2 linked regions of the Homo sapiens genome follow. The protein of the gene in region 1 purifies or fractionates together with the protein of each later gene. This does not show direct contact. Each region holds a gene or a part of one and is shown on either strand. Other genes may lie near its edges.

Region 1 (7,026 bases):
GTGCAACCTCAAGCTTTGCAACACCAAGGAAATAGGTGTGCTATGTGAGCTTACTCTTAAATAATGGCTTTTAGTGAGTGTAGATAGTTCATGTGTAATGTACATCACATTATACCACCTAGGGTTTATTGTAAACTATATTGCTGCTAGATACATGTGAAAATATTTTCTTTCAATTTAGGTGTTTCCCATGATGAATTGCTTGACTTAGCAAAGTTTCATTTCGGTGACTCTTTATGCACACACAAAGGAGAAATACCAGCTCTGCCTCCCTGCAAATTCACAGGAAGTGAGGTAGGGCAAGCCTTCCAGCTAGTATTTAGCCTTTTGGATTCCTTGTGTTGTATTTACACATAAGTAAACAAAATGTGCATATTTCCAGTAGGAAAAGAATGGAATAATAGGAAAAGGGAAGAGGATGTACTCATTTGCTTACATTCCTTCCTCTTCCGTATTCTTTAACCACCTATTTTTCTTCCTAAGGAAGCAAGGTTTTTTTTGTTTTGTTTTTAAATTTCTCCATTCTAGTCTGAAAGGAAGCAAAGTTTTTAAGAGCAGTTTATAATTTGGTCTTTTTGTGCTTTTTCTTTGGCACTATGCCAATTTACATATTGTAATATCTGGAAGTAATCTTTTAAACCCCGTATTTTGACTTTCACTTCAGGTTTACTCTTGGCTCAGTTTTGCCCACAGTATGTTTTGGGAGGGGGTAGTAACTGTTAGAGCCAGAACTTGCAGGGGATCTACTAGTTATCAACTAGCTTTAAGCCCCACTAGCTGCTTAGTTTGCCATGTTGAGGATGATGCTCAAAGTAGTATCTGGAAAATGCCCTGATATTGGCAGCTGCCTAGAACTGTAGCATTGGCAGTACAAAAATAAACCTGTAACGTCAATATGACATTTCAATAGAAAAGTTCAGATTGAGGCCGGGTGCGGTGGCTTACGCCTGTAATCCCAGCACTTGGAGAGGCTGAGGCGAGTGTGTCACTTGAGGTTAGGAGTTTGAGACCAGCCTCACCAACATGGTGAAACTCCGTCTCTACTAAAAATACAAAAATTAGCTGGGCGTGGTGGTGCATGCCTGTAGTCCCAGCTACTCGGGAGGCTGAGGCAAAATTGCTTGAACATGGGAGGCCGAGGTTGCGGTGAGCCGAGATGGTGCCACTGCACTCCAGGCTGGGCGACAGAGTGAGACTCTGTCTCAAAAAAAAAGAAAGAAAAAGACAAATTCAGATTGACAAACACAAAGGATTGATTTCTACCAGTGAAATGATGCAACCCTTTTGACCAGGTAAACCATGTGGTGCCTGTCTGTAGTAAAATGCTTTGGGAAAAGTAATTTTTCCCTAATTTAGTCTTAATTCTTCTAGATTAAACTCAACAATGTAATGAGGCCTGATAGTTAAAAAATCAAAATAGAGTCCTGGTGTGCATTTTAACTTTGCAGTTAATGGGACTGGTGATTTTTTCCTTGTTAATAAGCATGTTATATAATGTTAATCTTAACTAGAGGTCCTCCTGCTTTATCTTAACTAGATTCGTGTGAGGGATGACAAGATGCCTTTGGCGCACCTTGCAATAGCTGTTGAAGCTGTTGGTTGGGCACATCCAGATACAATCTGTCTCATGGTTGCAAACACGCTGATTGGCAACTGGGATCGCTCTTTTGGGGGAGGAATGGTAAGTGATTTTAAAAGAAATTTTCCATAACAGATGGAAGATTATCATGTTTTCTTAAATATAAGTTCTTTGTAAGAATCCTTTTTTAAAGTGGCAGAATAGAGTCTTGTACTGTGAATTCTGACTTAAAAATATAAACTGATCCTGGATTGCATGTGGGCCAGAAAAAGTTTCTTTTTTTCTTTGCCACAAAGTTTATTAGTGGCAAAATTTGAATAAGGACAGAATTAGCTAGAAGTACTATGTCAATGTTAATATCCTAATTTTAATAGTCAGTAGGCCCTCTATATCTGTGGGTTCCATATCCGTGGATTCAACCAACCATAGGTGGAAAATTTTGGGGAACAAATGGATGGTTGCATCTGTACTAAACATGTATGGACTTTTTTTTTGGTCACTTCCTAAACAATATAGTATAACAACTATTTACATAGCATTTACATGGATTGGGTATTTATCTAGAGATGATTTAAAGTATACAGGAGAATGTGCTTATATGCAAATATTACATATACCATATTACATGAGGGCTCTAGCATCTGTGGATTTTGGTATCCACAGGGATCTGGGAACCAATTCTCCACAGATACTGAGGAACTATACCAAGGTGATGTAAGAACATTAATTTCCTTGTTTTTCACAAGTACATACTAAAGTATTTGGGGCAAGAAGCATCACATCTAAAACTCAGTTGAAAAAACTTGTATAAAGAGAATAAAGCAAACATGGTAAAATAACAGGGAATCTAGATAAATGAAATTCTCTGTACTGTTTTTGCAACTTTTTTGTAAGTTGGAATTATTTCAAAACACATTGTATAGATTTGTCTTTACTCATAGATTTCTCCAAAATACATTTCATCTAAATAATCTTAAGCTTCATATGCAATATAACTTTGAATCTTTAAGCGTATGTAGCCAAGAGTCCTAGAAATTGGGTTGATAATAGCCATCTAGTTTTAGAAGTAGGTATAGCTACTACATTAATTATAAGGACTCATTGCTTTTATAACATGAATTTCTCCAGGGGGTGCACTGGGTAAGTGAGATAATAAACACAATTCTTAGTCATACTGAATTTTAACTCTACTACTGAGATGTTGAATAAAACTAGGAAACAGCCTCTAAGGATATTCACTATTTTCCACACACTCCATTTTTCTTTCTGTATTTTGGACATGTATAATTAAAATTCTCTTGGAATTTTTTTTTCCTTGCAGAATTTATCTAGCAAGCTGGCCCAGCTCACTTGTCATGGCAATCTTTGCCATAGCTTTCAGTCTTTCAACACTTCCTACACAGATACAGGATTATGGGGACTGTATATGGTTTGTGAATCATCCACTGTTGCAGACATGCTACATGTTGTTCAAAAAGAATGGTGAGAAAAATAGCTTTAAGTAATTTAAATTTTGCCTTTAATTCGTTTTAAACTAGTTTTTTATTTATACTTTATGGTGATTTATGGTAATTTTACCTTTTAATTAAGAGACCTAGATAAACAGTAGTTGCCATGTTTTCAAAGGTTGCAGTTGGTTTTTCCTAAGTCTCAAGATGTGAAGCTGATTTATACTATAGAATTTTTTTTTTTTTTTTTTTTTGAGATGAGGTCTTGCTCTGTTGCCCAGGCTGGAGTGTAGTTGTGCCATCTCGGCTCACTGCAGCCTCCGCCTCCCAGGTTCAAGCCATTCTCCCACCTCAGCCTCCCGAATAGCTGGGATTACAGGCGCACCACCATGCCCACGATGCCTGGCTAATTTTTTGTATTTTTTAGTAGAGATGGGGTTTCACCATGTTGACCAGGCTAGTCCTGAACTCCTGACCTCAGGAGATCCACCCTTCTCAGCCTCCCAAAGTGCTGGGATTACAGGCGTGAGCCACCACACCTGGCTGAAAGTTTTAATCTTTCAGAAGCAGGTTAATTCAGAAAGATGATCCTAAAAGTTTAAAAGCCAACTAGAAGTTGTTTGGAAAATATCTCTGAAAGTAATCTGGTTGAAGGGAAAGTAAATCTGAAGTTGCCACTGCTAAAAGAAAACAAAGTATATTGAGTCGATAGATGGGCAGAAAGGCTCGCAGCTTCTTGGAAAACATTTAGCTCTGGTTCCTTTCCTCCACTATTCTTAATTGGTTTACATCTTTCTAAATCTAGTCAACTAGGATGTAATTATTGTTAAAAATTAGATTTAAGTTAGACTCTACTCATTGTTTTCAGAAACCAATGAATGACCCACTGACTTAACCCATAGCATATCAGACTCCAACAGATGAGGACTCATGAAGTCTCAAGATGCTTATAGCATTTCTGAAAATGTGATCAGCCCATTTGTATAAAGCCTTTGTCTGCTAATGTGTAATTAGGCATGTTTATGTATCATTTTTGAGAAATTAATACTGGGGAAAATAATCATTTTAGCTTTTGCTTAGCATTGGAATTAAATTGTAATCACCTGTATGTTTTGTGTAGAAGATGGCATCATCATTCTTAGGTCATTAACTCATGAAATACAACATTTTCCAACTACTACTGTTTTTCCACGTTTTTTAGGATGCGACTCTGTACAAGTGTCACAGAAAGTGAGGTTGCACGAGCCAGAAATCTTCTGAAAACAAACATGTTGTTGCAGCTTGATGGTAAAAATAAAGATATAGGTTCTGTTTTCATATGGTTGATCTGTATTCCAATAGTTAATTTTTCCTTCTCTTTAAACAGGTTCAACTCCAATTTGTGAAGATATTGGTAGGCAAATGTTATGCTATAATAGAAGGATTCCCATCCCTGAGCTTGAAGCAAGAATTGATGTAAGTAGTCCTGAGTTACTATTGGGTCATGTGTAAAAAGATCCTTGTTACAAAAGCTGAGAATATGTATCTTTCATCTTGCTTTAGTTTTAAAAAGTTCCAGGTATAGACTTTGTTTTTACTACAAACAGCTGAATGACAGTGTCTTCCATATTTCAGGCTGTGAATGCTGAGACAATTCGAGAAGTATGTACCAAATACATTTATAATAGGAGTCCAGCTATTGCTGCTGTTGGTAAGCCTGGCTTCTTTTCTTCTATGCAAAAAGTTGGCCAAGTACTTTTAATTAACTCTTCTTTTTAATCCTTAGGTCCCATTAAGCAACTACCAGATTTTAAACAGATACGCAGTAACATGTGTTGGCTTCGTGATTAAAATGCTCCTAATCAAGATTGTTTGAACACATGTATTTATAAAACAGAGCTAGAGAAAAATAAAAATGAACATGTATATACATTTGGAAATTTGAATTAAATACTGTATCATACTTTCAAAGGATAAAAAGACTACCCCTCTGAAGGTTGTTTTGTATTAATGGTCAGTCTTTGTTCTCTGAGAAATTATGTTGGAAGCAGCATACTTTCAAATTATTACCATGAGTATAATTTTAAGAATGAAAATGTTTACAGTATTTTCAGTTTTATTATAAAAATGCACACACAACAAAGATTGTCATTTCTTGGCTCTACTTGCATTCAGCACTTGTTCTTGAGCAGCTTTCTTTGCTTTTACCATCTCGACAAGTTCCTAGGAAGGGAGAAAGGTGTGATTTAAGAAGTTGCGATTTAAAAACAGACATTTTAATCTAGTGTTTGGTGTAAAGAATTCAAGCAACTAAGATAGATAGTACTAAATATACTGATTTCATTATCTGCCAGGGCCTAGAAAGTTTCTAAGGTTGCTCATTTCTTCCTCATAATATTGACCCCATAACTACTGGTTTTGAAATAAGCACTATATTATTAACCACTTAATAGACATAAAATATGAGCTATATCACCCAAGCTACAATTTAAAATACAACAATCTATAAACGCTTAAGTCTGCAACCTTGTATCGTTTCATGCAGTCCTTCTTTGTCCTGCCAGGCACCGCTTCTGCTATTTTTTCCCATCTTTCAGGTGTATTTACTGGGTATGTTTTCAAAGCTTGTTCCAAAAGCTTCTGTTCTTCTGTTGTCCAAGGGGTGAAGTCTGTATATGGACCTGATTAAGAAAAATTTTTATTTGAAAACTGTCTTTGAACATGTTCTCAGACAAGTCTTGTGGTCCACAAGTATTCGCTAAGTGCCCATTTCAATCTGGGATGTGTCATTTTGAAAATAAACTTGTAGAGATGAGAGATACATATAGCCCTCTGAGTGTTAATAAGAGAAAAAATTTCAGATAGCTCACATCCCAGAAAATAAAATCTCAAAGGCTTTTAAAACACAATAGTAAAGATCTACCTTGTACTGTTTATCTCTTAAAAATCAATGTAATACACTCACCAGACTGGTAAAAAGCCATATTTAAATTTATAGTACTGTTGGACTCTTGGACTCAAAAACACAACCACAATTCATTAAGAGTTCTGATAAATCTACTTCCTTACAGAATAGGTAAAAGAGCTTCCTCACAGTTAAACTTTTGCTGGATAGAAACCCTGGAAATCATTCTTGTTTTACACTGAAGGAAACAAACCTAGCAAAATTAAGCCAAGTGCCCAAGGTACCAGTGCTGGAGAGGCAAGCTGAGATTAGATTGTGTTGTAGTGTGGTGTTCTCTTCGTCACATCTGCTAAAATCTTGGGAGCCGATGCTGAACACTTCCAATAACTGCTATTGTGGTTCTTCAACTAAACCTTGTATATTTCAGAAAACATCTAAGATGTGTGTCAGAAACAAATATGTTTCTTAAGGATGTTAAGTATTACACAGTCCACTTGTGTAGGTAAAAGTAGAATGTTAAGTGGTAGAAAGCTGATTTGGTTAAGTTAATGGACTTCTGGCAATTTAGTTATTTCAGACTATGCAGTGACAACACAGACTAATACTACCAGTAGCCTGACTACTACTAGAAACTGCGGCCTGTGAGATCTGTTAAAAGTTAAGCCTAGAAACCAAAGTTCCTTCCCAATTAAAGAAGGAAAAACAAAACAAAACAAAACAAAACCACCACCTATTCAAAACAAAGCAGAGAATTTGTATAATATTTGATGGTACCTAAGGTGCCTAAGAAGCTTTTTTGAAGGTAGCTTTTAAGTTCTAGGAAGTCTTTTGTTGAATTTCCTTGTATTGGTTTAAAGCCCTAAATACCATAGATTTTATTTCCTCTCTTGGAAAAAAGATGGAAGTGACATGGCAGTATTTCCTGCTGTTCTCCAGTTACTTCACAATACCAAAATAAATTAAACGTACTGTTGCAAAACTCCTATGAGAAATCACTATTCAAAAAATGGTGCCAGCTTGCTGTTTAATGGTACAACTGAAGAGGAAGGAGCCTTCCCATTTCCATAAAAGAGGCAAAGGAGTCATACCCACATAGCACTACTGCCAGTCACTCT
Region 2 (7,026 bases), on another chromosome or scaffold:
TTTCAAAGAGAGTGATTTGTCAATCAACAAATCTGTATAAATTACAGTAAGGAATGCAACGATGAGCCTATTTTAAATAAAAAATTTCCTGAAAATCAGATTAATTGTATTTATCAAGAGAATTTAGAAATACATGATAATGATGGTTATACTACCTTTTTCTTTTTTTAATAGACAGGGTCTTACTCTGTTGCCCAGGCTGGAGAACTATCAGAGCAAGCTGCTGCATGATCCTTTGACACCATTTGAACTTAGGCACAATTACAGCTCAGTGCAGCCTCAACCTCCTAAGCTCAAACGATCTCCCACCTCAGTTTCCCAAGTTGCTAGGACTACAAGCATGTGCCACCATGCCCGGCTAATTTTTTATTTTTTTGTAGAGATGGGGTCTTACTATGTTGCCCAGACTGGTCTCAACCTCCTGGTCTCAAGTGATCCTCCTGTCTCAACCTCTCAAAGTGCTGGTATTATAGGTATGAGTCACTGTGCCCAGTCCATAATACATTATTAAATGACAATTTTTTCTGAAATGAAATTTTTTTAAGATAGACACTAATATTTTTAATCAATTTCAGAATAAATAACTTGATTGACTTCCATACCTTTAACATCTGGATCATCAATGTGGGGCTCTAGATTTTCTATCATTTCTTCCAGTTCCTTTCTGGTGGCCATGGTGATGTTTGGAGAACTGGGCACAGGGCCCTCAGATTCTTCCTCTGGTCCCTCTGGGCTGGGTTTTCCCCCAGAGTTCTGTTCAAGCTCTATGTCTAGATCTATTTCAGGAAGAGGAGTCCTCCAGAAATGGAAGGAGTTATACAATTCCTGATCTAAGAGAGCTGAATCTTGTGAAGTGGTGCCAACCTCTGGTCGTAACATAGATTTGTAGTTACCAGGTTTTTTATCATTCTCATTACTAGCTGCTTCCTGGTGAGATTCTGAGGACAAAGTACAAAGTAAAGAGCTGTCCAGTGGAACACTAATTTCACCTAGAGGCTTCCCGGATGCCTCAGCAGCATGGTCTTCCATCGTGTTTTCCAGTATGACACTGGAATTACTAACACTGAGATCTGAAGGAGTATCCTCTGGCCTGACTTGTACATCCTCTGGGGCTTCTTGATCTCTGGTCCTTTTATTGTTTTATTTGGTGGGAAAAAAACAATATGAAAGGATAATTACTTTAAAAAAACTGATGAAAGATATTACATATAGCATTTAGACAAGTTAAACATTAAAAATTACGGATTATCTGTACAAACTGAGTTTATGTATATTATTTATAATGCTTCTTTCTCCATCAGCTGTTCTGTGTTCAAAGATGTAAATACCTGTTAAGTATAAGTCTAGATAGTCAAGCAATATATATTAGTTAGAGAAGGTAACATTTAAGAATCCTGGGATTCTATAACACCATGCTAATTTCAATAATAAATAACTAAAGAAAAGTAGTGGAAACAGAAATTCCTACAATCATTTTAAGATACATAACAACATTTAAATTATTTTATTTTTAGGGTTATTTGTATTACCTCTCTACTCCAACGACATATTGCAAAGCTGAGACCTAAAGCCTATTTGCTTACATTACACAAGGAAAATAAAATAAAAACAATTTTAAGATAGTAGTAGGAAAGATACTTATTTGCTATCTCACAAAATATATTAAAATCTGCTTGAGTGTAAATATTACTTCTGTTTCTTCTAAAATATTCATCTCTACTCCCCAAGGTTTTCCTAAAATGAGGACATAATTTAATTGATAAGGACAGATGGTACAAATTCATTAAAGTCCACTGATTACTGCCATCTATTATCTGAAGTACGACTGTAAGTGTTATTATTTGATTCAATTAAATTTAACAGGCATTTATTGAGCACCTACTAAGAGCCAGGAAATGAAATCAGTATTGAGGATTCAAATGTGAATGAGATGCAGCTCTTGATCTTGAGATTACAATTAGAGGCAAACAGAAAAAATGAAGATATATCAGCAAATTGCTGCTAGACAGGGTGGTAAGCACAGATGCAAGCACACTGAACACAGGAGGAGATGGGAGTGAAGATTAAAAGGCCTTCAAGGAAATGACATGAGTTGTGCTTAGAAGAACCAATACATGTTTATGGGGCTAAGGGGAAGAAAAAAGCATCTAAAGGAGAAACAGGACATGCAAAGGCCGGAGTGGCAGAAAAGGTGTGACGCATTCAGGAATCAGCAATGAGGAAATGATGGATGACAAGGATGAAAGATATCACATGAACCACTGTATTCCAGACCAGCAGACCTCCGGAGTTCATCCTGGACTACAGGAAATCATGTAGTAAGGAAATTGTTAATAGATCTGTTGTTTTAGAAAGACCATTCTGGAGGAAGTGTAGAAAATGAGTTGAGAGGTAAGATAGGAGGCAGGAATTACAGACATGCAGGTAAGAAGTGATGATGTTCTGATGGAGGCAGTGTCTCCAGGACTACAGAAGAACACATTCAAACAGCAGCAAAAATCAACAGGACTTTTCCACTTATTGCATGCTGCAGGTAACAAAAACAGTTTCACAAGAAAGCTAACAGGTTCAGGTTGAAAGAGGTTGAGTTAGCTATCCACGTTGGGTTCTAGGTGGTGATTATCTATGAGAAAGAGGTAAAGACTGAGACAGAGGTGGAGGTCATCAACTCAGAAAGATGTGTGGGGCTGACATATGCGGAGGCAACAAGTATTAATAAAGAATAACACAACTGCATAGAATAACAAAGAGTGAAGGCATTTTTCCTGTATAAAAGAATGATGAGCATATTTTTAGGCTGAGGAAAATAGGTTAGAAGAGATGAAAGAACTGGAGACACAGAGATTGATGAAATAACTGATAAAGCAATGTCTTTCTGAGAAGAGGAAAGAATATGGGCTTCAAAAACACAGCAAAACAGATTAAACAGTGAAGAGACTTGCTTCCCAAGAAACATGAAAGGGAAATAAGGATGGCTGAATATGTAGGTAAATTTGTAAGATGAATACAGGAAAAAGCATCTGTGTGCCTTTAAATACACACAATAAAAGATGTTTAACAGGAGACTTAAAAGGACTGTGCAAAAGGAGGGTGATGTTAATGCCTATGTGAGCTCCCACTTAAACAGTCACCATCTACATTCTCATGAAATTACGAAGTTCCCTCTCATCATAATGCTGTTTTCAAAACCATTATTTTCACAAACAGGTGATTATTTTTTAAAATACTGATGAACAAAAACATACGTAAGTCATCTGAAAACATAACACATTGTGACTGCATTTTAAATTCTGGTATTTTTCTTCTTATAACTACAAAATATACAGTATGCATATATAATACAATTGTTTACAAGTGTGAAGAAATCAGACTTTAACGTTCTTACTCTCGCACTGGCACTACGTTAATATAAAATTCTGAACCTTTTAAGGACTTCTAGGATTCCTCACTTATTCCTTATTCATAAAAATGAGGAGTTGGCCTAGATAACCTGTAAGATGTTTTCCCACTCCAAAGGAGCTCCTGAAGCTAGTGCTGTTATGCAAAATAAATGTGTCTTCTACATGTTTATGAATTATGTATTTCCCATTTTGTCCATATTAAAAAATATGTATTTTTCCCTTTTGTTATAAAGAACATTAGTGGGCCAATTGGTAAAATTCAATAAAGGCTAGATTAGCTAACAGTATTGTATCAATGTTAATTTCCTAATTTTGGTAACTGGACTACAGTTATATATTAACATCTGTGTTTTAAAGAAATACATAGTATTTTAAAAAGGTAAAAAGAATATCATGTCTAAAACTTATTCTCAAAGAGTTCAGAAAAAAAGAATAAAGCAAATATGGTAAAACAGTATTTGGAAAATCTACATGGATATATGAAGTTCTTTGTGATATCCTTGCAAAATTTCTGAAATCATTCAAACTAAAATTTTAAAATTATAATAAGATATTGTTCAGAAAGGGGGAAGAGAAGAGCAAATGGGTAAAACTTGTAAGACCTCGTATGTACTATCTAATAAATACAATGAACTTCTGTTTTGTTTATTGTTTTTTTAAGAGACAGGGTCTCGCTCTGTAGCCCAGGCTGGTGTAAAGTGGTATGATCATAGCTCACTGCAGCCTCAAACTCCTGGGCTGAAGCGATCCTCCTGCCTCAGCCTCCTAAAGTGATGGAATTACAGGGCCTTGAAGTTCCTTGATCACTAGCTCACCTTGGTGTTAAAATTAAATTTTAATATTCTCAGCTGCAAAAATGAACGGAGAATGACTGGTCAAATAACTGTTTGTCTGATAAATGTAAACTTGTTAGTTTGTCCAAACTTAAAACTCTTAGAATGATTTTTTTAAAAGGAAACTAGAAGACAAAGTTTCCCTAGTACAGTATTAAATTGTGGACAGAACTACAGCATGCATGGCTTCAAAAATGTCGAAAGTATAAATTCTCTAAATTCTAATTTTTCCTGGTAAAGTATAATAGTCAATACAAAATCAAGCTGTTCAATGCTAAAATTCTGATATTCCTAATTGTCAGACTTTGAAATGCTATTGTACAAGACAAATTTTTTTTTGAAAATTGAGGCCCTTTGTGACTCTGTATAATGGGAATTATCCTGTCTCCTAAGAGACGTAGGTATCAAGAGCACCAGAGGACAGTCCAGAAACTACCTACTTAAGGAGGAATCTTAAGTGTCTTTTTGTGCCTACATAAGTTTATAATTAATATCTTCAGAGTTCCTTAGTAGAGACTATGGGCCTAGAAAATTAATTACAGGTATTTCAAGGAGAAAATGACTTGTAGAACATCTGGCTAAAGAGGTATTGTATCCTGAGATAAAAGCAAACACGCTCCAGGATACCTTCCAAGTACTGTGAATTAACTCAATGAAGTTTTAGCATTCATGAAATATTTCCAAATTTGTGCTAATAATTTTTTTTCATATAGTTAGCATTAAGCTAAACTGGAAAAATCCAGCAAAAGTGGTTTAGTTACTTCAGATTTTTGAGGTCAAATCCATATTTCCCTAGAATAATTCATTCAGGATTAATATGTGCACCAACGGGCCAGGCCCAGCGGAGACAAAGGGAGGAGCTGGACGCCACACTGCATGGCCGGGAGGCTACTGGATGATAGATGCCAATATGTAGCCAAAAGGATAGGATTAAAATAGTGCTCTCATTACAGCGCTACTGATGATGAAGACAAAAGCTCTGTACTTCCTGGACAACTCAGTGCATCTAAGACAGCACTTTGTTAAACGAGGGTATGGATGGAACAAGAAGCTTCCCAGAGAGCAGCAAGTACAAAAACAGGGAGAATTAAGAGAACATGGTGCATTCAGAGAACAATGTGATAACGAATGCTTATTTTACATACTTTTAAAATGCAGATTTGAGTATTTCAACTCTGCTTCTGAGAAGTAGGCTTTATCAGCACTTTCAAAGAAGCATTAACAGCCTGATCCAGGGTGAGTGAAAGATCTGATGTGTAAGTCAGATGTTTGGAATCAATAAATGCTTCAAAGAGTAATAAAGTGATAGTAAATGTTTCTAGGGTCAGATGAAACACTATACAATAAACAGTGGTGGAAATATGTTGCCAAAAACTTGCTTACTTTGTAAGACATTTGTTTGAAAAACCTGAATCTAAGAAACTGAGAGAACTTTGAGGACAGGAACGAAGTTCTATCTTTCCATTTACAGTTTCTGGTTCATAGGAGGTGCTCAGTTAACTTTTGCATAATCAATCAATCAATCTTAATACCACAACAGTTTAAGACAGCTTAAAACAAATGCCACTGTGCTATTTAAGGGAGGGCAAACAAACTAATGGTTCTGAGATTTAATAATATATAGGACTACTTCTTTATAGTTTGTCAAACTATGCAAAAGCTTTTACAATATTTAACATAACTCCTTCCTTAGCCAGGAATGCTCTCTTTCCCCTACCATATCATTAACATAATTTAATAAGCTCTAATATTACTGAAGATCAGCAATACAAGTAGTATTGCCTGGACATTAAGACATACCTCATTACAATGGAAGAAGAATCAAGGAATTGAACTACCTTTAAATAGCTATTGCAGTAATGCTACACACCGGTAGGCGGCAAACATGGCCTTGATAGGCACACTGTTGAGGTCAGTGAAGTTTTACTGGAACACAGCCAAGCTTGTCCATTTATGTAATGTCTACGGCTGCTTATACACTGCAAAGGCCGAGTGAGTAGTTGTGAAACAGAAGAAAGTTTACCAGCTCGTCCTATACAGTTCTCTGCAAATTTATAGTTTCTTACTAGACCCATTTCAGATTTTAAAACAGAAGTTATGTAACAGTCTTCAGTATAAACAGGTAATTTTTTAAGTATGCTGATTTCAAAAATGAAAAATAGATAACATTCCCCACCCACCATCATCACTTTTGTCAAAGTCCTGGCAGCACCTGTTTTCAAAAAAACTGACAGACTTTGCTTGCTAGGAAGACAGGTTTGAGTGATTTTCTTCCTTTACAAAAAACAGTACCTCAGGTTTGTTTGGCTATTCAGCAGGACAGTAGGAGAACGGGCAAAAAGGTAAAACAAGGCAGCAGAGAAGAAAGAAGAACTGCCAAATCAAAACACCAAGAAAGCAAATAGCACAGTATCAAGACCTACAGAAGAAAATGTCCATTAGCATCATGACAAGGGAGGGAAAAGACACTATGGTAACTCAAGCATTATAGCAGGGACTGTTTCAAATATTTGTACTAAAATTACTTCAAGTGCATAACTGTAAAAGTTTGTGTACATTTCCCGCATACTAGTAAGTTAGGCTTGAATTAGTTTTTCCCCTAAATATATATTATAATAAATTTTTAAAATTTAAATTTAATAGAAAATTTTCAATGCAAAAACATTTAAAAATAAAAATCACAGCCGACTCTTTAAGCTTTATTTAAAACTTTGGTTTCCTTATGAGACTGATATACTTAAAACTGATATACTGGCTAATATACTGGCTTTCTCCTTTAACTGACAGATTAC

Evidence for each region. Proteins that work in one complex are often made in the same cells at the same time.
Region 2: the proteins of PMPCB (region 1) and PPP4R1 purify together in Homo sapiens (affinity purification with mass spectrometry; 3 studies listed by BioGRID and IntAct, with this or other methods). This does not show direct contact.

The regions. Positions count from the first base shown.
Region 1 is NC_000007.14:103,307,415-103,314,440, forward strand, and holds part of PMPCB (mitochondrial-processing peptidase subunit beta isoform 1 precursor), read left to right. Parts: intron 1-181; coding exon 182-294; intron 295-1,537; coding exon 1,538-1,681; intron 1,682-2,900; coding exon 2,901-3,061; intron 3,062-4,228; coding exon 4,229-4,314; intron 4,315-4,393; coding exon 4,394-4,482; intron 4,483-4,641; coding exon 4,642-4,717; coding exon of another isoform or gene 4,718-4,785; exon of another isoform or gene 4,786-4,792; coding exon 4,793-4,857; 3' UTR 4,858-5,154; coding exon of another isoform or gene 5,155-5,229; 3' UTR 5,230-5,532; coding exon of another isoform or gene 5,533-5,687; 3' UTR 5,688-7,026. Other genes in the region: DNAJC2 (dnaJ homolog subfamily C member 2), read right to left, coding at 5,155-5,229, 5,533-5,687. UniProt on the Homo sapiens protein: Catalytic subunit of the essential mitochondrial processing protease (MPP), which cleaves the mitochondrial sequence off newly imported precursors proteins. Preferentially, cleaves after an arginine at position P2.
Region 2 is NC_000018.10:9,569,555-9,576,580, forward strand, and holds part of PPP4R1 (serine/threonine-protein phosphatase 4 regulatory subunit 1), read right to left. Parts: intron 1,130-7,026; coding exon 603-1,129; intron 1-602. UniProt on the Homo sapiens protein: Regulatory subunit of serine/threonine-protein phosphatase 4. May play a role in regulation of cell division in renal glomeruli. The PPP4C-PPP4R1 PP4 complex may play a role in dephosphorylation and regulation of HDAC3.